Homo sapiens: one gene and its partners. The protein of the gene in region 2 purifies or fractionates together with the protein of the main gene of each other region. This does not show direct contact. Each region holds a gene or a part of one and is shown on either strand. Other genes may lie near its edges. The genes, in order: MEF2D, AUH, ALKBH5 and DNAJC11.

What was found.
Region 1: the proteins of AUH (region 2) and MEF2D fractionate together in Homo sapiens (co-fractionation; one large-scale study listed by BioGRID). This does not show direct contact.
Region 3: the proteins of AUH (region 2) and ALKBH5 fractionate together in Homo sapiens (co-fractionation; one large-scale study listed by BioGRID). This does not show direct contact.
Region 4: the proteins of AUH (region 2) and DNAJC11 fractionate together in Homo sapiens (co-fractionation; one large-scale study listed by BioGRID). This does not show direct contact.

What each region holds. Positions count from the first base shown.
Region 1 is NC_000001.11:156,473,276-156,476,775, forward strand, and holds part of MEF2D (myocyte-specific enhancer factor 2D), read right to left. Parts: intron 3,240-3,500; coding exon 3,219-3,239; intron 1,963-3,218; coding exon 1,833-1,962; intron 1-1,832. UniProt on the Homo sapiens protein: Transcriptional activator which binds specifically to the MEF2 element, 5'-YTA[AT](4)TAR-3', found in numerous muscle-specific, growth factor- and stress-induced genes.
Region 2 is NC_000009.12:91,350,136-91,357,859, forward strand, and holds part of AUH (methylglutaconyl-CoA hydratase, mitochondrial isoform 1 precursor), read right to left. Parts: intron 7,379-7,724; coding exon of another isoform or gene 7,349-7,378; intron 6,021-7,348; coding exon 5,953-6,020; intron 5,837-5,952; exon of another isoform or gene 5,836-5,836; coding exon 5,748-5,835; intron 1-5,747. UniProt on the Homo sapiens protein: Catalyzes the fifth step in the leucine degradation pathway, the reversible hydration of 3-methylglutaconyl-CoA (3-MG-CoA) to 3-hydroxy-3-methylglutaryl-CoA (HMG-CoA). Can catalyze the reverse reaction but at a much lower rate in vitro.
Region 3 is NC_000017.11:18,191,380-18,199,103, reverse strand, and holds part of ALKBH5 (RNA demethylase ALKBH5), read right to left. Parts: intron 4,150-7,724; coding exon 4,069-4,149; intron 1-4,068.
Region 4 is NC_000001.11:6,690,070-6,697,793, forward strand, and holds part of DNAJC11 (dnaJ homolog subfamily C member 11), read right to left. Parts: intron 1-7,724.

The DNA of each region.
Region 1 (3,500 bases), on a different chromosome or scaffold from region 2:
AAGTGCTGGGATTACAGATGTGAGCCACCACGCCTGGCCTGGGTTCTGGATTTTTACATGTGGGGAGGAGGTGGGATTTTGTGGTTATTTGCACTGGTGGCTGGTTCAACTCTGGGAGGCTTGGGGAAGGGGGAGAAGTTTATGAGTCTTTTGGTCCAGACTAAACTCATCAAAGGAACTGGCCTGACATAACCATTCACATGTGAGAGAACCTGAGGAAGGCAGAGGTCTCTAGCTGGAAATAGCCCAGGTTCCCCAGCCACATGAATGCTCTGAAACAAGGGGACAAGGCGTTTCCTTACTGGCAAGTCCTTCTTGACACAGTGGCTTAGCATACAGGCAAGGATGGCTGAGAGTATCACAGACTGTTCCTGCGCAGGTGTGAGTGGGTGGGTGACACAGGCCAGGATGGCCCTAGGGACCCAGGACAGCCCGCGCACTGGGTGTCCTATCTGAATTCTTCTATCCAGAGACCTTTCTCATGTCCTTAAGTGGCTCTTTACCTTCAGATCCCCTCTCTAACCTTCTTCCCTCTTCTTCCTTCCCCAATCATCATTCCACCACCATGCCAAAACTAGAGGAGAGACGCTGTTCTTCCCCCTCCGCCTTGCCCTGGAGCCCCCATTTGGCTTTCCCAGGAAGCTAGCAAACTGACCCTGACTGTGCTTTCTCTCTGGCCTCCTCAGCCTCCTTGTCTCTTTTCTCTTATTCCTTCATTCTCTTCCAGGAAGCTTTTCTGAACTGACCACGTCCCCCTCACCACTCCCCATACCTGCAGCCTAGAGATTGGTCAGCCTGAATGATCTGCAGACCTGCCTCTGTCCTGTCTCGTCCTCAGGCTGCAGGCTTTCTGAGGACAGGGGCTCCCTCCTCCATTAAGTACTTTTTAAAAAATAAACAATGCTGGCCAGGCACAGTGGCTCATGCCTGTAATCCCAGCACTTTGGTGGATCACTTGAACTCAGGAGTTTGAGACCAGCCCAGGCAACATGGCAAAAACCTATCTCTACTAAAGATACAAAAATTAGCTGGGCATGGTGGCGCATGCCTGTAATCCCAGCTACTCAGGAGGCTGAGGCATGAGAATCACCTGAACCCAGGAAGAAGAGGTTGCAGTGAGCCAAGGTCATAACACTGCACTCCAACCTAGGTGACAAGAGTGAGACTACCTCAAAAAAACAAAAACAACAAAAACCAATGCCTAGTTAAATTTGAATTTCAGATGAAACAATACATAATTTGTTAGCATGAGTATGTCTTTGGTGCTGGGCACAGTCGGTAACACAGCACTTTGGGAGACTGAGGCAGGAGGACTGCTTGAGACCAGGAATTTGAGACTAGCCTGGGCAACAGAGAGACCTTGTCTGTACAAAAAAAATGTAAAAAGAGCCAGGCATGAAGGCATGTGCCTGTAGTCCCAGCTACTCAGGAGGCTGAGGCAGGAGGATCACTTGAGCCCAGGAGTTCAAGGCTGTAGTGAGCTAGGATGGCACCACTGTACTCCAGTCTGGGTGACAGAGTGAAACCCTGTTCCAAAAAAGAAAAAAAAAACAAACCCAAAAATAAAATATGTCTTTGGGACATACATTAGCAGAAGAATGTCTTTGGGACATATCTGTACTAAAAAACTACTTGTTTTATCTGAAATTCAAATTTAAAAGCATTCTGTGCTTTTATTTGCTAAACCTGTTAACCATAAGTAGGTGGGGGTTCCCCCAAATCAGTAGCCCTCCTCAGATGTGGCCTGTCCAGGGGATAACTAGCATTTCTGTCTGGTCACTTGCCTGCCCCAAGCCCAAGTGCACACATGCACATGTCACATGAACACTCACCTGTGTTGTAGGCAGTGGGCATGGAAGAGAAGGGGAGGCCCTGGCTGAGTAAACTCGGCGTTGCCACAGAAACCACTGGGGTGGTGAGCGAATGAGTAGACTGGGAGACCCCAAGGCGCTGGGCATTGTTCTGTAGGAGAAAACTGTCCGTCAGGAGGTGGCTGACAGGTGGGCAGCTTTATGTTGGCCCTCCATCCCAAGGCCAAGGTGGGGTTCCTGAATCCCAAAGCCAAGGCGGGGTGCCTTAGCACGGAGGCCCCCACAGATATACAAACACACGTTGGTGCATTCACAGAGACACTCAGATCCATGGAGGGAAACATGCACACACAGATTCACTGACACCAACACACGTGCAAAGATGAAGGCACGTGTACTGGCCCTGTGGCCCCAGCACCAACACTCGCCCAGCCTCCCAGTGCAGAGTGAGGGAAGGGAGACATCGTCCATCCCCTGTCTCTCTGGAGCCCACTCTCCATCCATCACACTGCAGCACACGCCCCGGCAGAGGCGTGCTGGCATCTGCGAGGGGAATGTGGGGCCTGGCGTGGCGTGTGCCTGCGCGTATGCACACACGTGTGTGGGGCTGTCAGCTCCATCTGCCGCTGAGTCACTTGTTTATTCCAACTCCATGCTGGGGCCGAAACTGCCGCCGTGTTGGCCGCCAAAGCCTGCCTGCCTTTTCCAGCCTCTCTGGCCTCCCGTCAGGGAGTTAGGGAGGGAGGAGCCCCCGCCCCACTCCTGGCTGGGGGTGAGTATGTAAGTGTGTGAGACAGAGGAGGAAAATGAGCAGCTGTGCATGCCTCTGAGTGCCCGTGTCATGGACTTAAGTTCAGGAGGGAGCACAGGGAGACAGGGGAGGTGGGAAGCTGCCACCAAGAAGGACAAGTCCAGCCTGGGCCTGGGCCTTGGCTTCCCCTGAAACACCAGCTTCTCCTTCCAGCTGACCTCCCTCCTAAGAAGGATCCTGTCCTGGATCCCAAGAATGCAGTGTGGGCCTGAGTGGAGTCAGAGGACTAGTGGGATCCAGCCCCCTAGTCCAGGGCCTAGTCCAGGCATCAGGGTGGGACCTCTGAGCCCTGGGCTGGCCCACTCCCCCTCGCACACGTACATACAGAGAAAGGTGTGTCTGAATGAACATAATACCACATGCAGACATTCATGTACACACAGGCACACACACACACGTCTGACCTCTCACCCCCACCCCATTCACCTTTGAATCCCACTTGGCACCTAAGCACAGCTCCTGGCAACTAAGCAAAGAAACAGCAACAGTTCACGCACAGGCGAGAGGCCAAGGACGCACACGTACTTCATGCTGGGGGACCGCAGAGCAATACCCAGAATTCAAAGCCACAGCAAAGAGCTCACAGCCTCACTTACCAGATCTAAATGGTCCTCAGTCTGAGAGCAGAAATAAAACCAAGGGGATGTTCAGTCTCTGGCCGCTGCCCTCCCCCACACCTCTGTCCCCACAGCTGTTCCAGTCACCTCTCTGCATAAGAGTAGGGTGGCTCTACCCAGCCTACAAAGGCAGAGCTCTCCACCGTCCTGACTCATTTCCAGAGATGCTCCATCCCAATCTCCACCAGTGAGGAAATGCTCACCATCTAATCCCCATCCCTCCTGCTATAGTGGCAAATCCTTTCTATGATCCTCCCCACC
Region 2 (7,724 bases):
TTTACATATTACTGTGGTTAATAGAAACATCCATTTTAATACATTACTGTAACAATGACATTTTGACATTACACACCTTCTCAATGTAGGGCCACTAAAATGTCTAAGTGTATAAAATTTTAAGAACTTTAAAGAGACACCTCATATTCCTTCTAGGTTCTAGATTAGAAACCACAGTCTAAGAGAAAACTCTGTCCTAACTGTCAAGAGAAGTAGTTTCAGCTAAGCCACCACCTTTAACCAGGTCTTTCACTTCACAGGGATTCTATAAAATTAAAGGGTCTGAATTATTCTATAGGAACTCTTTTAGTCTAAAATTTATCTTCTCAAATGTTGTAATGGGTCGGGCACAGTGGCTCGCGCCTGTAATCCCAGCACTTTGGGAGGCCGAGGCAGGTGGATCACTTGAGGTCAGGAGTTCAAAACCAGCCTGGCCAACATGGTGAAACCCCGTCTCTACTCAAAATACAAAAATTAGCTGGGCATTGCAGCAGGTGCCTGTAATCCCAGCTACTCGGGAGGCTGAGGCAGGAGAATCACCTGAACCTGAAAGTCAGAGGTTGCAGTAAGCAGAGATCATACCACTGCACTCCAACCTGGGTGACAGAACATGATTTCATCTCAAAAAAAAAAAACAAAAAGAAAGTTGTAACAACAATTTAGGAACTCAGTTAATATCCCAATTTTAGTTTCCAAAAAAAGAAAAATACACTAATATACTTTGTATTTTTCAAAATTATTTACTTTGCATATATTTGCTTAATATAATTTGTTAATATAACGAAGTTATTTCAGAAAGTTTGAAGACAGAAAAAATATCACCTTTAATCCATGATCTTTTTTTTTTCATTTTTTCAAACAGGGTCTCGCTCTGTCACCCAGGCTGAAATGCAGTGGCACAATCACGGCTCGCAGCTTTGATCTTCCAAGCTCATGCGACTCTCCCACCTAAGCCTCCTGAGTAGCTAGGACTACAGGCACGCACCACCATGCCTGGCTAATTTTAGTATATTTTTGGAGAGACAGGGTTTTGCCATGTTGCCCAGGCTGGTCTTGAACTCCTAGGCTCAAGCCAACTGCCTACCTCGGCCTCCCAAAGTGCTGGGACTACAGGTGTGAGCCACCTGGCCCATGAACTTATTGGCACAGACATAGTTTACACAGCTACAGTAATAATGGCCATAACATTTTATATACAACTCTCTCTATGCTTGTAACAGGTTATTTTCCACACTCCATGTATATCACTTTATAAGTATCGTATTTATATGTCTTTATATGTATGACTTTAAATATCTACTTAACATTCTAATGAGCGCATCGGTATATAATAAGTCACTTAAAGAGAACATCCTGGTAGAGTCCTTAGAAAATTTCATCCTTGTATAAACATCATTGAGTATATATACACAAACCTAGATGGTATAGGCCAGGGGTCCCCAACCCGAGTTGATGAATGGTACTGGTCTGTGGCCTGTTAGGAACCGGTGACACAGCAGGAGGTGAGCACAGGCAAGGGAGCATTACTGCTTGAGCTCTGCCTCCTGTCAGATCAGCAGCCGCATTAGATTCTCATAGGAGCACAAACCCTACCGTGAACTACGCATGCGAGGGATCTAGGTTGCACGCTCCTTATGAGAATCAGGCCAAGGTGGCCTGATGATCTGAGATGGAACAGTTTCACCCTGAAACCATCCCCTACATAAATAGGATATATGGTATAACATATTTCTCTTAGGCTACAAACCTGTACAGTGACTGTATTGAATGCTGTAGGTAACTGTAACACAATGCTAAGTATTTATATGTACCTAAACAGAAAACGTACAGTAAAAATACAGTATTATAATCTTATGAGGCTGGGCACAGTGGCTCACCCATGTAATCTCAGCACTTTGGGAGGCCTAGGCAGGTGGATCACCTGAGGTCAGGAGTTCAAGACCAGCCTGGGCAACATGGTAAAAACCCCATCTCTACTAAAATTACAAAATTTAGCTGGGCATGGTGGCACACACCTGTATCCCAGCTACTCAGGAGACTGAGGCACGAGAATCGCTTGAACACTGGAGGCGGAAGTTGCAGTGAGACAAGATCACACCATTGCACTCCTGCATGGGTGACAGGGAGACCCCGTCTCAAAAAAATAAAAACAAATAATCTTATGGGACCAGCATTGTATAATGCAGGCTACTGTTAACCAAAATGTTGTTATGGAGCACATGACTGTATTTGTGTATATATATACATATATATAAAATAAAGTAAAATACTAGGACAAAAATAATAATTATTTATATTAGGGGATGAATAAAGTAGAGGAAGTAGGGTTAGAGAGAGTTCTCTCTGTATACATTTTCATACATTTTGACCTACCATGCTACTTTTTTAAACTAAAAATTGATTAAAAAACTTAAAATGTAAGTGAAGTACTTAATAATGCTAAATAATAGATTTCTGAGAAGTCAGAAATCACTTGGCCCAACCTCCAATGCAATGTAGGAATCTCTTTAATGTTTATCTGTTTTCCTAGCATTTTAGAAAAAAGATGTAGCCAAATTTACTATCAGTAAATAGGAGAGTGGTATGAGACAATTCAGAGAAGCTGCTTATTATATCCCAACCATTCCTGAAAAAAATCAGTGAATTAAAGCACAGTTTAAAGGCTGATTAATTCCAGCAAATAAATGCTGAGTCCCTGTTGTTTGCTGTGTTCTGAGAATGTAAAAGATGATTCTCAAAGAATAAGAGGAGTTCCTATGCTCAAGAAATTTGAGGCAAGACCATTTGCTAAGCTTTAAATATTTAGAAATGAGCAAGGTATCACTGGAATACAGTATTAATATATACAGAGAAACCTTTGTGGGAGAAGAAAAAGAAGAGGGAAAATGATGACTTTCAAGGGATGGAGAAGAGGCTAAAAGGATAATCAATAAACGGTACACTGTGTTTTTGAGGTTTCTTTTTTTTTTGAGCCGGAGTCTCACACTGTCACCCGGGCTGGAATGAGGTGGCGTCATCTCGGCTCACTGCAACCTCTGCCTCCCAGGTTCAAGCAATTATCCTGCCTCGGCCTCCTGAGTAGCTGGGATTACAGGCACCTACTACCACGCCCAGAAAATTTTTTGTATTTTTAGTAGAGACAGGGTTTCACTATGTTGGCCAGGCTGGTCTCGAATTCTTGACCTTGTGATCCACCCACCTCGACTTCCAAAGTGCTGGAATTACAGGCATGAGCCACCGCGCCCAGCAGAGGTTTCTTTTAATATTACTACTTTGGAGTACAAATTAAAGCTTTAATTATGTGAAAGACCACATTCCTCAACAATAACTGATAAATGTGGCCTGATTAAGATGTTTATACTAATATAGGCTGTAAGTTTAAATATTCTTTAAATAATGTAAAGAGATTTTATTTACCTATAATTTTATTTCATATGTACATGTTAAAAGACAGACCTCTTTGGGAGGCCGAGGTGAGCGGATCACGAGGTCAGGAGATCGAGACCATCCTGGCTAATACAGTGAAACCCTGTCTCTACTAAAAATATAAAAATTAGCCGGGCTTGGTGGCGGGCGCCTGTAGTTCCAGCTACTCGGGAGGCTGAGGCAGGAGAATGGGGTGAACCCAGGAGCCGAGATCGTGCCACTGCACTCCAGCCTGGGTGACAGAGCAAGACTCCGTCTCAAAAAAAAAAAAAAAAAAAAAAAAAAGACAGACCTACTGGTCAGCTTATAAATGTAAATACATGTAAAAAAGAGGCCATGTGTGGCCTGTAATTCCAGCCCTTTGGGATGCCGAGGCAGGTGGATCACCTGAGGTCAGGAATTCAAGACCAGCCTGGCCAACATGTTGAAACCCCGTCTCTAGCAAAAATACAAAAATTTAGCCAGGCGTGGTGGCGGGCATCTGTAATCCCAGCTACACGGGAGGGTGAGGCAGGAGAATCACTTGAACCCAGGAGGCAGAGGCTGCAGTGAGCCAAGATCGTGGCACTGCACTCCAGCCTGGGCAACAAGCGTGAAAGTCCGTCTCAAAAAAAAAAACAAGAAAGGAAAACCTTTCGGAGAAATCTGAAAGAACAGTTCCATCATATACACTGAATTACTAAAAGAGAATGATATGCCCCAATTTTTCTATAATTAAGACACTGACTTTTGTTGACAAAATACAGTCACAAATCTTGAGTTAAAAGATTATCCTGATTGTACGAAAGTTTAAAAGCACATAAAGCAAAGTAAATAGATTAAATTAACTTGTTAAAAAGTACTCAAGGCTAACATGTTATTCTAATAAACAGCATGTGGTATATTATTTGAGGACATTTTGCATGTCCTCAAAAAGGCAATCTGTAACAGACATCCACAAACTGTGCTAAAGCATTAAAGCTTTTTTCAAAGTATATTCCTAATGCAGAAATCTAGAACAAATGGGCTGCAAAAGAATATGTAAAATAAAAAGAATTCCACCAGTAACTATAGTGCAATAATTATAAAACCTACTGCCAACAGAAAAACAATGCCGGGATGACCACTAACACTTATTTTTAAAATGTTAATCTGTCTTCACAACATTGATATCACTCCTCAAAAATTCATATAATTGGGCCTTCTTTAAAAACCCTAAAGCTACTCTGTATCTTCCCAATAAGCCATCCAATGACCTTTAGAGAACCTCTCAACCATCAGTCATGTGTTATACTCCTTTACCTCAAGATCATATTCACCTGGTGAATATGATCTAGACATAAGAATCCTAATTCTCTTGATATAAGTCTTTCACATTGTTTAAAAAAACAAAGAACTCAAAATATACATAAAACCCTTATAAGCACTCCTACTAAGCAGACAGTATTACTCACATTTGACAAATGTGAAAACAGAAATCTGTACTGCATAACACCATAACCCTAGCAGCTGGGAGTAATAAACCTACACTCTTTGGTTACTCAACTGGAATTAAAACTAATTCTTTTCGGTATCCTACATTTTAAGAAATGTATTAAGGAGGCAATAAAACCTTATCAAAAGCCAAAATACACTGCATATTTCTAAATATCACACTATTCTGCAATATTTTAAGGCAGAAGCCACAGAGATTGAAGCTTTAAAAAATTGAGAATCCTTAAGAATGAAACTAGGGGCCAGGCACAGTGGCTCACCCCTGTAATCCCAGCACTTTGGAAGGCCAAAGATGGTGGGTCACTTGAGGTCAGCAGTTCGAGACCAGCCTGGCCAACATGGTGAAATCCTGTCTCTACTCAAAATACAAAAATTAGCTAGGCGAGGTGGCAGGCGCCTGTAATCCCAGCTACTCGGGGGGCTGAGGCGGGAGAATCACTTGAACTGGGGAGACGAGGGTTGCAGTAAGCGAAGATCACGCCACTGCAGCCTGGGTGACAGAGCAAGACTCTATCTCAAAAAAAAAAAAAGAATGAAACTAAAGAATATTGGCCACAATTAAGACACAACAAACAACATTGTACTACATGTACTACAGGTACTACAAACAAGTATTTTAATGGCTCAAAGATTTTTTTTCAACTTCCAAAACAATCTAAATGTTGCAAAAGCTTCTTTCTAATGCTGACAGACTAAGCATGTTTTTTTCTTGTGAATCAGTAAAACACAGACAAAGAGGAGTTGTTGGTAATGGGGTTCAAACCAAAGAACATTCTAATGGAAAACAGATTACTATTGAGGAAAAATCAGACTACAGTTTAATTTCATAATACAACATATTTACATACCAGCACAGAATATCCCTGGGACTTCACTCCTGATTATTATGGTCCGTACTTTCTTATCAGATTTCAAAGCATCCACAGCTTTTGATAGCTAAACAGAAATAGGAAGCATAGGAGGAAAAAGAGAAAAAAAAAACAAAACATTTTTACATTGATGACAATAATATATCTTAATATTAGAAGCAAACAGTTTAATCTTTACACTCACCATTTTTATAAGATTTTTACTGAGTGAATTTTTGCCATAAGCTCTGTTTATTCCAAGCACCACAATTCCTAGTTAAAGGGGAAAAAAAGTACAAGCACTTGAGTGAGCAAGGCATTCAGAGAACAGACTCTACATCACACATCTAGCTAGCTTCGAACTTAACAAATCAAAGAAATTCATGACATCACGTTCCCTTCAATCGATCTCTTCTTAAGCACCAAGATAATTTGCAACATTTTGGTAAATTTTACATCACTAACTCAAACTAGAGGGAAGACTAGACTTATTAGTGAAAATTTTAAGTTAAAGGATACTATTTAAAATGTGGTTTCATCATCTTCAAGTAGATACCAAAGTAACCGCTAATAAACCTTGTCACATGCAGGTATTATAGCATCTGCTTTTTCTAGGACCAGTTGTTAATATCTCCATTTTTTTGTTGTTCATACTACACAGTTTTCAGTAATTCTATCCCAAGCTTCTCTCCTGATTTCTGTCTGATATACTTAACCTGAGGGCACTTCCATTTAGATGTCCAAGAAGTACTTCCAACTCAACCTATACAAAACAAAGTTCATTATCTCTCCCACAAACCCAGCTGTCACTCCTAACTGCCCCACTTTTTAATCAAAGACCATCACCTAAACCCAGCCTCCCATTCCTTCCAGTTACCAATTTTCTAAAAACAGTACTATGCATAGAATGCATCCCCTACTTAAAATCCTTTCATTATTTATTTCAAAATATCCAACTTCAAAGATCCTAATTTGATATTCAAAGTTCTACACAACCTCTACTAACCTTCTTGTTCTTGGAGTAGACAAATTTTCACAGTGTATCAGAAATACCTTCCACTGAGTCAGGGTGGGTATGTTTCTTATTTGCAACTGAGCTAAACTGAAGACAACAAAATGTACACATGCCTTCGCTGTGCAAGAAACTGTGCAGACCCATTCTTTAAAGTATAAAGATGAACTTCTGCTCACAAGAGTAAATTTGCAAGAATTCCAAATGCTCTCAGTACAGAGAAAAGCATAAAGGACTGCTATCTGACAGGATCTGTATTAAACAGCTGAATGACTTTGGGTAGGTCCCAATACTACTGACAACAGCTACCACCAGTAGGCCTCAGGCACTGCTCCAGGTGCTTTAAGCGAATTAACTCATGTAATCCCCACCACAACCCAAGAGGTGGGCACTACTTTTATCAATAGTTAACGGATAAAGAAATGGAGACTTGGAGAGGTGAAGTAACTTCCTTCAGCTATTAAGTGGTAATCTAACTCTATACTTGAATAAAACTGTGTTACACTGTTCAAGCTTCAGTTTCCTCAGGAAGAAAATCAAGCAGCTAAGACTAGATGTGTCCATTCATTCAAACATACTGAGTACGTACTATAGTGATCAGCAGCCATGGAACTAGAGTCTAGGAGGGAAATACAAACATTAATAATCATAGAAATCATTAATAATCATAAATATCATTAATAATCCATTCAAACTGCTTTACAAGCTGTAAGTGGTGCTACAGTAACTTGTAACCAGAATTGATAATGGTCTGGGGCAAAAGGAGATGGTTAGGGAAAGCTTACCCCAGACAGTGAAGGTTAGAAGGATAAGTAGGAGTCAAGGTGAGAGTGAAGGAGAGGGGCTGACTGCCAGGCAGAGGAAACAGGAAAAGCATAAACTAGTCATGGTCCCACTGAATGTCCTGTAACCTACGAGGGGGAGAAGAGAGTGACCAATGAAAGTAAAGAGGTCAGCACAAGCCA
Region 3 (7,724 bases), on a different chromosome or scaffold from region 2:
CAACTCTCTACTTGCACAGCAGAGGCAAGAAAGCCCTTCTATATCTGAGCTCCAGTTTCCTAACTCAAAGCATCCATCCCAACGACACACTGGGGGAAAGGGCAGGACTTGGGGTACTCCACTGTGCAAACCACCAACGAACCACAAGACCCAGGTTCCAGGTGTCACTCAGCCATTTACTGGCTAAGTTGTGACCCCAAACATTATAACACCAAGGGACAGTCTGAGGATTCCACTCTGGGGAGACTTTTTTAAAAGGTTACTTCCAGCCTCCCCGTAAGAAACAAGGGCACATGTGCATGAAGACTTGGCACCACCCATGTTCACAGAAGCTGCGTTCTGTCCAACCAGAAAGCACTTGGCAGCTGCCCACCCATTTCCTTCCGTGAGGCCCTTAGAAAGACCTTTCCAGCTCTGACTGACCTGAGCTGGTGACAGAGCTCCCAGGGTCTCCACCAGCAGCCTGTGCAATCTTTATCTGAACTTATGAGAAGGCAGGACCGGCTCTAACTCCTCTACCATAATCAGGGCCAGGCTCAATGCCCAGATTCTACCCACTGTAACACAACCTCACCAGAAGACATCAAACCAGCCAGGTATCTTCCAAGGCCACATCATACTTATCTCCGGGCAATGCCTGGGCCAAGATGCTCCCCTTTTTAAACTTGTCACAACCCGTCCTTTCCCAAGACAAACCCATGTAGCTACTCTGGAGCTGCTCCTCACCGGCCTGAATTGTTCTCCACACTAGTTGATGCCTCCTCTGGGCTGCACCTCATGCTAGGCCCCAGATGAACAGGGATCTCCTTACTCCTACAGAATGCAGATTTGAAAATTCACAATGGCAAGCGTATGAGCTGTGACAGTCCAAACAGGGGTGTGTGTATGTGTCTGCATGTGTGCTGAAAGGGCTTTAGGTGATGCTAAAAAGCTAAAGGGCTTTTTATATGATGCTTTCTGCATGTCAAAATGGTCAATCTGAACGATGAAGAATGACTAGGTTATCTGAGGAGTTGGTTATCATGTAGGTTTATTTGGGGAGTTGGGATATGAATCAGAGGATGAACATGTTAGATGAGAAGGTATGCCCAATGGAGGCCACATTGCCACAAGAGCCCAGGCACAAATCCATAAACCATAACAGGAGCTGCAGATACTTTAGAGTTCCCCACAGCTGTGCACTTCCCCAGCTCAGCTACCTGGGGAAGCTGGGACATCCTCCCACTCTTCTCCAGTCCCCTTACACCACAGCTCTGTGCTTCTGCACTCCAGCCCAGTCTGTGAATGGTTCCTGGGCCCACTGAAGTCAGAAGGTAGAAGAGCTTCAGTCACCCAGTAACAGCCATTCCCAAGGTCAGGCCACTGGCAGGGACCTAGCTGGCTGAAAAGCTTCCCAGGGAGCTGATTAACGGTGCAGACTCCTAGCTGTGCTGAGGAGCATCTGACTCAGTTGGACTGGGCGGCCAGGTATGGGAGTCACCATTCAATAAAAGAGTAGCAGCTGGAAGACTGACACTCCAGCTATGGCCACTACCACCTGCACATCCAACTAAGATTTCCCCAAAATAAGCTATTATGGGAAGATGAGAGGAACTCTTGGGAAGTTACTGCTCTGGTTCTATGTAACATTAGAAGTTCCTCTCCAGGTTCCTGGCCTGGGCAGGCCACCCATCCCTGGCTGCAGTTGGAGGTACCAGGTACAGCCTGAGAAGAAATGACTGGAGGAGAGGCTGGAAGAGTGCTACACTCTGGACTCCATTGTTTCCGAGTTCTTGCCTATGCTGGTTATCACAGAAAAATAAAGTACAAGGCAGATAAAAACTCTTCCCTTCCTCTGACAAATTCTGGGAACAGTCTTAGGCTAGAAAAGAGAGGCTGCCAACCCCACCAAGTTGACCCAAGTTTCTGGAGCTCCCACGTGTTCACTGCTCTGCCTGTACCATAGGACTGTCCCACAGATATGGATCATACCCATCTACTATAGTTAAAACAGACTAAAAGTTTTGACTTGGCAAAGTGGCAAAGCCATACCAAAGAGACTTCACCACTACAATATTCTGGAGTTATGGGCCCAAAGGACCAGGATGCCAAAGTTATTGTTTACTGACTAAAGTTGATGCACCAGAAAAAATTCCCAATGACCAAAGCTGGAAGAATTTGAGCATAAAATAAATTCCTAGGAGTCCATACTTACATAAAAAATATACTTATATAAATAAATGATTGAATAAATGAAGGAGAGTAGACCAATCCCCCCTGCAGAAGAATTCTAAGTAATTCACCTGCATGCTCCCCCTCAAGGAGATGGTGCTAACTCCCACACTCTTTAACTGTGGGCATGCATGGTGACTTCCTTCCTAAGGGTACAGTATGGACAAGGAAAAACAGTAATTTTACAGTGGAAAACCTGACAGTGCATTGGCCAGATGATCAATATCAATAGTGTTAAGTTACATTGATAGTATATATTCTTGGTTATGTAGTAAAAATGGCATACACTTTACCATAAAAACATCAGACAAATTCTAATTGAGAGATTTTCTATACAATACCTAACCAGTCAATATCATCAAGAATAAGGCAGGCTGGGCATGGTGGCTCACACCTGTAATCCCAGCACTTTGGGAGGCCAAGGCAGGTGAACCACTTGAGGTTGGAAGTTAGAGACCAGCTTGGCCAACATGGGGGAAACCCCATCTGTACGAAAAAATAAAGTTAGCTGGGTGTTGTGGCACACGCCTATAGTCCCAGCTACTCAGGAGGCTGAGACACGAAATCACTTGAACCTGGGACGCAGAGGTTGCAGTGAGCCGAGATGGTGCCACTGCATTCCCGCCTATTCCAGCCTAGGCGACAGAGTGAGACCCTGTCTCAAAAAAAAAAAAAAAAGAATAAGGCAAAGTCTGAGAAACTGTTACAGCCAAGAGGAGTCTAAGAGGAGTCTGAGTTGATATGTCAACTAAATGTAACGTAGGATGATCTTGGGACAGAAAAAGGACATTAGGAAAAACCTAAGGAAATCTAAATAAAGTATGGACTTTAGTCATACCAATAAAAAATTAACAAATAGGAGAAATGGGATGCAGAGTACATGAGAACTCTGTACTATCACAATTGTCTGTAAATCTAAAACTATTCTAAAAAATAAAGTTTAATAAAAGGAAGGAAGGAAGAAGACGACAGACAGCAAGTTTTATGGGTCAAGCCTAAGTTTACGTGCTTGTTTTGCTCTGCTCACTGACTTCTATGACTCTGGGCAATCACCTATCTTCTCTGGGACTCTATTCAAAAGGTAGGCGTGAACCAGGTATGGTGGCACTTGCCTCTATTCCCAGCTACTGGGGAGGCTGAAGCAGGAAGAGAGCTTGAGTCCAGGACTTTGAGGATGCAGTGAGCTATGATGGCACCACTGCATTCCAGCCTGAGCAAGATGGGTGGACAGTGGGGCAAGGCTTGTCTTGATCCAATGTCTGTGAGGCTATGGCTTCTTCCACTCACCCCGTGAAAGAAATAAATGCTGGTGAAGCCAGGTTTGTTGATGTTAAGTAGCACATCCCTGATTCCCTCCCCAGAGAAGAGCCACAAGCCATGATTCTGCCGAATACTACATCCTAACCTCCCACCCTTGTCTCCTCTCTTCACTCCCTGTTCCTTCCAGCAGTGAAAACCCAGGCATTTTTAAAGCAGGCTGCTAAAGGCACAGTCTAAAAATAATCACCAAGAGTACGTGTAACAAATAAGAACGAAGGAGGTGAGGAATAGAGGCTAAGGGGTGGGGTGAGGTTTGGAAGAATGTTGCCCAAATCTTGTCTCAAGATTATACCCACAAATATTGGGCGTATATGCTTTTGCTCAGTCCTAAACTCCCTAAATAGAGTACTTAATTTTCTGATAAAACAACAAAACAACTTTATCCTCACAGGATTCAAATAAAAAGAGAACTTAACAGTTCTGCTCTCCACTCTGCCATGCCACTGATACATAGGAGCTGAGTTCTAAGTGGACCCAGAGCTACATCTCCAGACAGGCCTGCAGGTGAGGCAGAAGGTCAGACATCAAGGCACTTACTTCCTGAGGATGATGACTGCTCGGCGCTCCTTGATGTCCTGAGGCCGTATGCAGTGAGTGATTTCATCAGCAGCATATCCACTGAAAAGAAACACAGAACATGTGACCATGAAGAGTAGACAGACAACCAAAGTTCCTGGGGGATATAACAGGACAGGAACATGGCCTAGGTCTTACGGCTGCTCTCTACCCATTACTTGAGAGTTTCAAGGATCTACATGGAAGGGAATATCATATTAAGTTCCAGGATGCTTTTGCCAAGAGACTGTAATACTCAAGGAAAAACCTGGTATGACACAAAGGAGACCCCTTGGCCACTTAAGGCAGAGGCTGGAAGCAAGACTCTCCCTGAACAGGCCAGGAACCCTTTTTTAAAAGGGTACTCCAGAGAGTACACTGTAGCTCCTCCTCATTCTCCCTCCATTTAGCAGGTAGAGAAAGCCAAGGCAGCCACTGATAGCACTGAGTCACCAGGGAGAGCTAGGACTGCCTCATTCCAAAATAGAATATCTACATGAAGTCTCCATTTGGGGGGATCCAAAATTTTGAAGACAGTTGTGTTTGAATATTTTAAGAATTTCCGGCTGGGCGTGATGGCTCATGCCTGTAATCCTAGCACTTTGGGAGGCCGAGGTGGGCGGATCACCTGAAATCAGGAGTTCGAGACCAGCCTGGCCAACATGGCGAAACCCCATCTCTACTAAAAATACAAAAATTAGCCAGGCATGGTGGTGGGCGCCTGTAATCCCAGCTACTTGGGAGGCTGAGGCAGGAGAATCGCTTGAACCTAGGAGGCAGAAGTTGCAGTGAGCCAAGATCACGCCCACTGCACCTGGGCAACAGAGCGAGACTCTGTCCCCACCACTGACCCCCACCCCCTGCCCCCCGCCCAAAAAAAAAGGATTTCCATCATACTCAGATATCTGTTTATTTTCAACAAGTTACATGACTTTTAAAACCGCTCAGAGACCAACTAATGTGGGTAGATGACTGTCCTCTTCTCAGCTAGCGTCATTCCAATTTGAAACTCTGGAAGCAAGCTCTGAGCTTCCTATACCCCTCACATGCTATCACTGGAAGCATGGCAGCCACAAGATACTCCCACTCCAAGTTACTCTACTGAGCTGCAGCAGTTCTACACACCCAGAAACTCAGCCACAAGCCTAGTAGGACAAGTATGGCTTAGTTTCCCTACCTGGCCCTGTACCACAAACCCTTCTCTCATGGCTGCTGATCAGCTCCCTTCTCAAAGGCTAGTTGTACAGACACAAACTTAACTATTAAAAACACTGCAGGCCTGGGAAGGACCCCTCAAGATGGCCAGGCTGGCCAAACCTCAGCTCTAATAACTGGATGCAAGAGCCAACAAGAGATAAAAAGCCAGACTGCTTCAGGCTCAGCCTTAAGGAAGCACCTCTGATTTGGAAATCTGATTTGAGCTCATGCTGGGGATAGAACAAACCTTTATTTTATTTAATTTTTTTTTTTTTTGAGACAGTCTCACTCTGTCACCCAGGTTGGAGTGCAGTGGCACAATCTCGGCTCACTGCAACCTCTGCCTACCGGGTTCAAGCGATTCTCCTGCCTCAGCCTCCCAAGTAGCTGGGACTACAGGCGCACCCCACCACGCCTGTCTAATTTTTGTTATTTTCAGTAGAGATGGGGTTTCACTATGTTGGTCAGGATGGTCTTGAACTCCTGACCTCGTGATCCGCCAGCCTCGGCCTCCCAAAGTGCTGGGATTACAGGTGTGAGCCACCGCGCCCGGCCCAAACCTTTATTTTATAGATCCACCTTCTCCCTCAAGCTGCTCCTAGACAAGAATTTTTCAAAATTTTCTCCATGAACACCAGTCCCATAAGAGACAGTAGACAGGCTAGGCACGGTGGCTCACGCCTGTAATCCCACCCAGCACTTTGGGAGGCCAAGGTGGGCATGTTGCCTGAGGTTAGGAGTTCGTAACCAGTCTGGCCGACATGGTGAAACCCCGTCTCTACAAAAATACAAAAATAAGCCAGGCATGATGGCAGGTGCCTGTAATTCCAGCTATCGCAGAGGCTGAGGCAGGAGAATCGCTGAACCTGGGAGGTGGAGGTTGCCGTGAGCCGAGATAGTGCCACTGCACTCCAGCCTGGGTGACAGAGTGAGACTCCGTCTCAAAAAAAAAAAAAAAAAAAAAAAGAAAAAGACAGTGGACGAATGTCTACAGTGAAATCAATTTGTAAAATACTGATTAGAGTTTCAAAAAGCATTAATATATTTAAAGCACATGAGAATTACTACAGCAAAAGAACCCACTGACTTTGAGCACTTACCAAAGAACCTTCTCTCATAATACCTATTAATACCCATCAGCCCACAGTGAGAAGTACCACACAGGAGTTAGTGAGTTGAAGAGACCTGGGTTCAAATGTGAGCTTTGTCTCCTACTAGCTTTGTGACCTTTGTTAAATCACATGCTGAACCTAAAAACCTGTACAGTTTCTTCATCTGTAATAAGGAGAACAGTAGGTTCTTGGGTATTCATTTTGTTATGCTTTATAATTTAGCTATTCTTTTGCTGCTACTAATATTACAAGATTTTAAAAATGGGGACAGTTTTAAAGATTACAAGATTAAAGTTTTTAAGATTACAAGATTTTAAAAACGGGGCCTCCTCCCTTCCAGGCAGAAAAACAGCATTATATGACTACTTGGTTGACACTCCTGGAAAGGGGTGGTGAGAGGCCTACCTGCAGGGGTATTGCGAGAATTAAGTCAGATAATGCAGGGTGCCTGACACCCTACAATCTTTACTAAGCACTCTGACAAAAGTCAGAGGGCCCTGGACTATCCTGGGGCAAGCCAGAGCCCTGGATTCAGCATCTGCCAAAGAGACATGGTCTGGGCTCCCCCTGCAGGGATCTGCCAGTAGTGGGGGCCGCCTGGGCCCCATTTCCAGAGCTAGGAACTCTAGTTCTCATCCCATGCTTTTATCATTCCACACTGGGGGAATGGGGGTCTAGACTGCAAGACTGTCCCATATAGACACACAATACTTTCCCAAAGAGCTGTCAAAGGTCTCAAAGGCACTTTTTTTTTTTTTTAAAGACAGAGTCTCACTCTGTTGCCCAGGCTGGAGTGCAGTGGCATGATCTTGGCTCACTGTAACCTCCACGTCCCAGGTTCAAGCAATTCTCCTGCCTCAGACCCCCAAGTAACTGGGACTACAGGCTAATTTTTGTATGTTTAGTGAAGACTGTTTCCCCATGTTGGCCAGGCTGGTCTCGATCTCCTGATCACACGTGATCCACCCACCTCGGCCTCCCAAAGTGCTGGGATTACAAGTGTGAGCCACCATGCTCGGCCCCAGAGGCACGTTTCTAAGTCCTGAATCTGCAGTGCTGGCTACAGGCAACCTTCCCTGCCATTGACAAGTGTTATCAATCTGTTTGACTTGGCTATATGCATAACCAAGGGCCCTGACTTCCCATCTCCAACAAGGAACCACTTTTCTTAATGCAGTTCTGGAGCAAATCCAGATGTTTGTCAAAGCTTGACTGCCCGCATGCTCCCTGACCCCATCCCCCAAAGGGCTCTAGAACAAACAATAAGCCATGTCAGGTTCCTGCCACGGAGCCCAGGCCTTGGAAGAACTAGTATGGAGGTAGGGCTGC
Region 4 (7,724 bases), on a different chromosome or scaffold from region 2:
ATGGAGGAGGAGTTTATTTGGTTATGGACCCCTAACCCGAAAGATTGTTAGAAACTAATAATGTGTAGCCTAACTCAAACCAAACTTAGTTCATGAAAGTGAAAGGCAACATAGAAGGAAGAGGCGTTTACAATATATATATATACCAGATCAACGATTCATCCAAATTATATAAGTAACCAATAAAAGCCTTCCTTATTAATGGCTATGCTCATGACACTAATAGAAATACACGGCATTCATTTGACAGTCGCATATCCACTGCTATGTCAAGCATTTCCATGCACTCCCACTTCATTCCCACAAAAGCTCTACGACAGTAAAACTGTCTGGATTTTCTGGATGAACGGGCTCAGACAGGTTAGGTAATTTGCCCCCCACAAAACCTGCTAGAAACTCAAACTTGGATCTGACTCCTGCGGCTGTGCTCTCTATCTTCACAATGACCCCTTTTGAAGCTCCACCACTGTCCCAGGACATTCAAATCATCACCAATGAATGCTCCTTGATGCTTAAACACGCAAGGGGTGGGCTAGGTGATTTCAGTTGTCCTTCACTTAAAACCCCTGAATTGCCTGGGCGTGGTGGCTCACGCCTGTAATCCCAGCACTTTGGGAGGCTGAGGTGGGCGGATCACGAGGTCAGGAGATCGAGACCATCCTGGCTAACAGAGTGAAACCCCGTCTCTACCAAAAATACAAAAAATTAGCTGGGCGTGGTGGCGGGCGCCTGTAGTCCCAGCTACTCGGGAGGCTGAGGCAGGAGAATGGTGCAAACAAACAAAAACCCTGAATTCTATCACATCTTTGTTGAGGACAGAGGTCAGGCTGACCTACACTGATTTTGGAAGTTTGGCTCCTACAGCCATTTTAGGTTTCACTTTGGAAAGAGCTTAGCAGAGAAATAATCAAATCACAAATGAGTCAGAAAAGCTGAACAAAGAAACAGATAAAACAATTCTAAAAAGTTTCTACAAATAGGAACAATTTTTGAAACTTAAGTGAGTTCTACTTAACACAGAGTTAAGGAAAAAACTTACAAAACACAATACCTCCAAGATGGCAATATAAATTTGAAAAAAAGATTACACAATTAGTAACAACAGAATCCCAAAGACTGAAAAAAAAAAAAAAAAGCAGGAAGCACATCACCTGTAAGGTTTACGGGGCAGAGAAGGAATCAGGTCTTGCAGCACACATCTCGGCTACAATCACAGAATTCAAGAACAAATGGGCCCAAGGTGCAAAAATCCTGACTCCCAATCAGAGGTCATTGCAAGGGCTCAGGAAATCTTCTGCTACCATTGTACAACTTGGTTTTCATTACTCTTCCTGGTCATGTTCATATATATATTTGTTGCCCTTGAGACTAATAGAAAATCAAAAGGCCCCAGTCTCTAGAAACAAGCTCCAGAGTTGCACCAAAATTGATGGCTCAGATCCTATCTTCACAGTAAGAAATCGGCTTATTTCTCCCTAAAAGCCTGACCTTATACCTTCTGTCATTCGTGTTCATCCGTTATACCCTGCCTACTCATGCAGACTTCTTGTGGTTGATCTCTATTGGCTTGGCATTTTACTGCTGAAGAATTTTCTGGCTCCTGTCAACTAGGGAGGGTAGGCTGCACACTCAAAACATGCAGAAGTGGTTCCAACAGTCCATGAGCCAAACAGGAATCCAGCTGTCAGATTTTCATCTCGAAGGAGGTTCCACTCCAAGCTGCAAGCTCCTTCCAGGGACTGCAATCTGTACCAGGCATATGCTGTAACAGTGGTAATAATGCAGCAATGTTCTCAATTGTCTTCTTTTTAAGAAATGTGTGACTCCTTTAAAAAATATATGCTATTTTATTTTTTCATCTGTTGTCTTACATCCTTTCTTAAACAAAGGTGTAAGTAAGTAAAATTAAAATGAAAGGTTAATAAAAAGCAGACAATAAAATTCTACAGCCAAGCAAAGCATGTTGCTCTCATGTCCCGTTTTCCATTGTTTTATTACTAAATTCACAGCAAATACAAAAGTTTTCCATTGAATTCTCTTTAAGAAAGAAAATAAAAGAGGTGTTTTGGTAGATAATGCAAAATTAGAGCATTAACATTTCAAGAAGCAATTGTTTGAAATGCCCAAAGCAGAAAATAACTGGCTTATAGATCATTAAAGAAACACATTGTGAAATGTAACCTCACGTTTGCCAATCACATTATGAGATGACATTGGAAGTGGTGGGGCATCCTCAACAGCCCCCTCCCTGCACACAGGCAGCTTCTCTAAACTCCACTTCCCGGGCACCCTCTTGGGCCCACCCCTGCCCCCAGCTCTGCCTCCTCTCTGCTTGGCTCACAACTATCCTATCTTTACCCCAAACACCCAAAAAATGTTATCCTTGAGCCTGCACCCTACTCCCATACTTAGCCCCAACTTCCAGGAAAGCTCCCTATCCCCATGTCAACTTTCCAGGAAGCACAAGTTCAGAGAGATCACTGTCTTTTAAAAAGAACAAACTCAGTGTTTTGAACAGAAAGTAAAAAATGCTTCAGGAATTTTTTTTTTTTTTTTTTGAGATGGAGTTTTGCTCTTGTTGCCCAAGATGGAGTGCAATGGCACGATCTTGGCTCACTGCAGCCTCTGCCTCCCGGGTTCAAGTGAATCTCCTGCCTCAGCCTCCCATGTAGCTGAGATTACAGGCATTTGCCACCACGCCTGGCTAATTTTTGTATTTTTAGTAGAGATGGGGTTTCTCCATGTTGGTCACGCTGGTCTCAAACTCCCGACTTCAGGTGATCTGCCCGCCTCAGCCTCCCAAAGTGCTGGGATTACAGGCATGAGCCACTGCGCCCAGCCTCTTTTTTTTTCTTTGACAGAGTCTTGCTCTGTTGCCCAGGCTGGAGTCCAGTGGCACAATCTTGGCTCACTGCAACCTCCGCCTCCTGGGTTTGAGCAATTCTCCTGTCTCAACCTCCCAAGTAGCTGGGATTACAGGCGAGCATCACCACACCCGGCTAATTTTTTTTTTTCGTATTTTTAGTACAGACAGGGTTTCGCCATGTTAATAAGGCTGGTCTCAAACTCCTGACCTCAGGTGATCTGCCCGCCTCCGCCTCCCAAAGCGTTGGGACTGTAAGGCGTGAGCCACCACACCCAACCTCAGGAATTTCATAAACTAATGCTTAGCATACATTCTAGCACTATGATTTTTAGTAATATTACAAGTGGATAGCAAAGTTCATCCTTAGCCAGGATGAAGCATACCAAGTATGTCTTTCACATTTTTAAATTTATTTATGTACATGTATGTCTTTCACATTTTTATTTATTGTTATATTATCGTTTAGATGGATTCTTGCTCTGTCGCTCAGGCTGGAGTGCAGTGGTGGTGCGATCTTGCTTCACTGCAAACTCCATCTCCCGGGTTCAACCAATTCTCTTGCCTCAGCCTCCCGAGTAGCTGGGATTACAGACGCCCACCACCACACCCAGCTAGTTTTTGTATTTTTAGTAGAGACAGGGTTTCACCATGTTGGCCAGGCTGATCTCGAACTCCTGACCTCGTGATTCACCCGCCTCAGCCTCCCAAAGTGCTGGGATTACAGGCATGAGCCACCACGCCCAGCCTTTTATTTATTATTATTTTTATAGACGGAGTCTCGCTTTTTATAGACAAAGTCTCGCTCTGTCGCCCAGCCTAGAGTGTGGTGGTGTGACTGCAGCTCACTGCAGCCCCAAACTTCTAGGTTCAAGCAATCCTCCTGTAACCAAGTACCCCCATTTTTTTTTTTTTTTTTTTTTTGGAGACAGAGTCTCGCTCTGTTGCCCAGGCTGGAGCACAGTGGTGCGATCTCTGCTCACGGCAACCTCCACCTCCCAGCAGAGATTCTCCTGCTTCAGCCTTATGAGTAGCTGGGATTACAGGCGCCCGCCATCAAGTCTGGCTAAGTTTTGTATTTTTAGTAGAGATGGGGTTTCACCATGCTGGCCAGGTGGGTCTTGAACTCCTGACCTCAAGTGATCCGCTGGCCTCAGCCTCCCAAAGTGCTGGGATTCACAGGCATGAGCTACCATGCCCAGCCCCATTTTTTCTAAGAGATAGTTTAATTATTTTCTCCTCTCCCCCTTTCCCCGGTACCCTGCTTCCTACTTAGCCCTTTAGAAATGCAAATATAACCTTTCCCCTCCCCCTCACCAGACATCTTCTATGGGGCAAGTTCAGCTAACTACGTGCTCCAAGACGGATCTCTTGACAGTGGATTTGCAGACCAAATCATGTCCCCATGGCCACTTTTACTTCTTTCTGCCCAGGAAGATGCCAACTCAATTGCCAGTTAGATAAAGTACCCAGATAGCAGGGGGACCCCTGCCCTTGCTCATTTCCTCCTATACCTTATAAAAGTGCCTGCTTTCTGCTCTAAAAGTGAAGCGGTACAGCAGGACATCGTGCCCCTTCCCCAAGCTGACTTCAGAGTAAATTCACTGGCTTTGTATGCGCCTCACTCTTGTTAACTGGACTCTGCATGCGGTAAACAACTGACCTGCTTTTCGGCTGCACCTCCACCTTAGGCTGGACTACAGGTTACAGCTCATGCCACCATGCCCAGCTAATTAAAAAAAATTTTTTTTGGCTGGGCGCGGTGGCTCACACCTATAATCGCAGCACTTTGGGAGGCTGAGGCGGGCGGATCACAAGGTCAGGAGATCGAGACCATCCTGGCTAACACGGTGAAACCCCGTCTCTACTAAAAATACAAAAAAAAAAAAAAAATTATCCAGGCATGGTGGTGGGGGCCTGTAGCCCCAGCTACTCAGGAGGCTGAGGCAGGAGAATGGCGTGAACCCGGGAGGCGGAGCTTGCAATAAGCCGAGATCGCACCACTGCACTCCAGCCTGGGCAACAAAGCGAGACTCCGAATCAAAAAAAAAAAAAAAAAAAAAATCAGCTGGGCGTGGTGGCAGGTGCCTGTAGTCCCGGCTACTCGGGAGGCTGAGGCAGGAGAATGGCGTGAACCCAGATGGCAGAGCTTGCAATGAGCCGAGATTGTGCCACTGCGCTCCAGCCTGGGTGACAGAGCGAGACTCTCTCAAAAAAAAAAAAAAAAAAATTTTTTTTTTTAATTAAAGATGGAGTCTTGCTACGTTATGCCAACCCAGGCTGGTCTCAAACTCCTGGACTTAAGTTATCCTCCTGCCTTAGCCTCCTAAGGTGCTGGAATTACAGGTGTGAGCCACCCCCCAATCCTTATGTCTTTTTTTAAAGTAAGCAAAACTTCAAACTTATCAAAATCCAAGAAATAACAATATATATTAACTAAATACCTACTTATGACAGGCAATTTATATACATTCTCAGCACCTAGCAACGCACATACCACACAGGTCATCCTGGCCTACAGTAAGTGCTTAAGCCATTATTACCTGTTACCTACATTCTAACATTAAAGAAACTGATGGCCAGGTGCAGTGGCTCATGCCTGTAATCCCAGCACTTTGGGAGGCCGAGGCGGATGGATCACGACGTCAGGAGTTTGAGACCAGTCTGGCCAACATAGTGAAACCCTATCTCTACTAAAAAAAAAAAAAAAAAAAAAAAAAAAAAAATTAGCCGGGTGTACTGGTGTGTGCCTGTAATCCCAGCTACTTGGGAGGCTGAGGCAGGAGAATTGCATGAACCTAGGAGGTGGAGGTTGCAGTGAGCTGAGATTGCGCCATTGCACTCCAGCCAGGGTGACAGTGTGAGACTCCATCTCAAAAAAAAAAAAAGAAATTGAGAAACAGAAAGGTTAAATTACTAGCGTTGAAGCATAGAACTTCCAGAAGAGTAAAATGGGATTTGAATACTGGACTCCAGCTGCAAAGCCCTACATAGTGGCCTCCCTCTATCCCATTGTTAACTAAGAAGTACTGGTGCCTCCATTCTGCAGGTAAGTAGAGGCTGAGGTTAAATGACTCGTTGAAGGTCACACAAGAGGCAGGCAGCATGGGCTGAAATTCTTGCTTCTCAGCCTCTTGGCTTACAGAACACCCTATGGAATGCAGACATCTGAATAAGTTGTTTTTGGACAACCGAGGCTTAATTCTATGTGCCTGAGGCACACATTTAACTGGAGTCATTATAAATATCAAACTTTAACATAATGTAGTAGATGGAAAATGAAGGAACTGACCTTTTCAGAGCCATCTTTATTTTTTATTAAGACAAAATTAACTGCCCATCATGAAGTTTGATAAGAAAGCAATAAATGTGTAAACACACACCACCTCACTGCTTTAGGTATTTGAGTCGCTCAAATTGGCACAGTTGAGCCTTTTACATGTCAATTTCTGCAGATGGCTGAGTCAGTGGTCCTGATTGGAGGGTCTGCTGTCTCCTTCTTTGTGGGTGACTTTGACCCTAGGACAATCTTGCCAGTGACCAGGGGACCTTCCTCTACTCTTCTAGCCCTTCCTTTCCATCTGCAGCTCAAACTCAACTGTTGGGCCTCACTCTGTGGCTGTAACCTGCAGCTAAGGAAACCCCAACAACACACAATTGTGAAAATAATGATCTACCCTGTACCAGAGAAGGAATGAAAATGCAGGGACTTGGGGTAAACTTTTTACTGGTAGGTGATACTTTTGTACTTCTAGTTTCATGGCTGTTCTGGAAGGATGAAGATCTCAGAACACTGACCTCCATATATGGACTGCAAGAAAAAAACTATTTATTAACAACTTCATTTTTTACTTAACTGTGTTTTTCCAAAAGTGTTTAAAAGTTGAAAAGGAGGATGGCTCCTTAAGGTTAAAACAATTGGGACCAGAGGTCTTCAAACAGGTTACAAACACTGCAAAAATGAAATTCTTTCAAAGACAATGATAAAGTTAGAACTGTAGCCATTTGTCTTGGGAATAAATTAGGTTTGAAATGTGTCAATTAAATTTCCTAATTAATGGATCAGGTAAATTTAACTCTGATTTATAGTTAAGGAATCCTTTCTCCAAATAAATTTTGGAAAATCATCCTGGAAATCTCAGAGGAGTGAGATTTTAGGAACCAGATGATGCATCTAACACTAAACCAGAAAACCTGTCTGGCTTTGGTGTGCCCAGTGAGTGATAAAGTACTCCCTCCTCTCAGTGTGAGGCAGGCACGACAGATGATGGCCCTGCTCTGTAAACAGGAAATCTAGAAGGAGAATCATTAAAGATCATGTGTCTTGTCATAGGAGAACGGGGGGTCCTTTCCAGCTGCCTGCTTCACTCTCTCCAACGGCGGCAACAATGGGGTCTCCAACCTTTTAGCACCACGGACTGGTTTCATGGAAGATAATTTTTCCACAGACTAGTGGGAGTGGAATGAAACTGTTCCACCTGGGATCATCAGGCATTAGTCAAATTCTCATAAAGAGGACCTAACCTAGATCCCTTGCATGTGCAGTTCCCAATAGGGTTCATGCTCCTATGAGAAGCTAATGCCACCACCAATCTGACAGGCAGAGCTCAGGCGGTGATGCTTGCTTGCCCGATGCTAACCGCTTGCTTGCCCGACGCTAACCGCTTGCTTGCCCACCACTCACCTCCTGCTGTGCGGCCCAATTCCTAACAAGCCACAGACCAGTACTGGTCCATGGCCAGGGGGTTGAGGACCCCTGCTCTAGAATACAAATTTAAGGGGATATTTTAAAGTTTAAATCCTGGAGAGGGAGATTCTTCAGCTGATTGTTGACATTTCTATATTAATCCAATTATATACC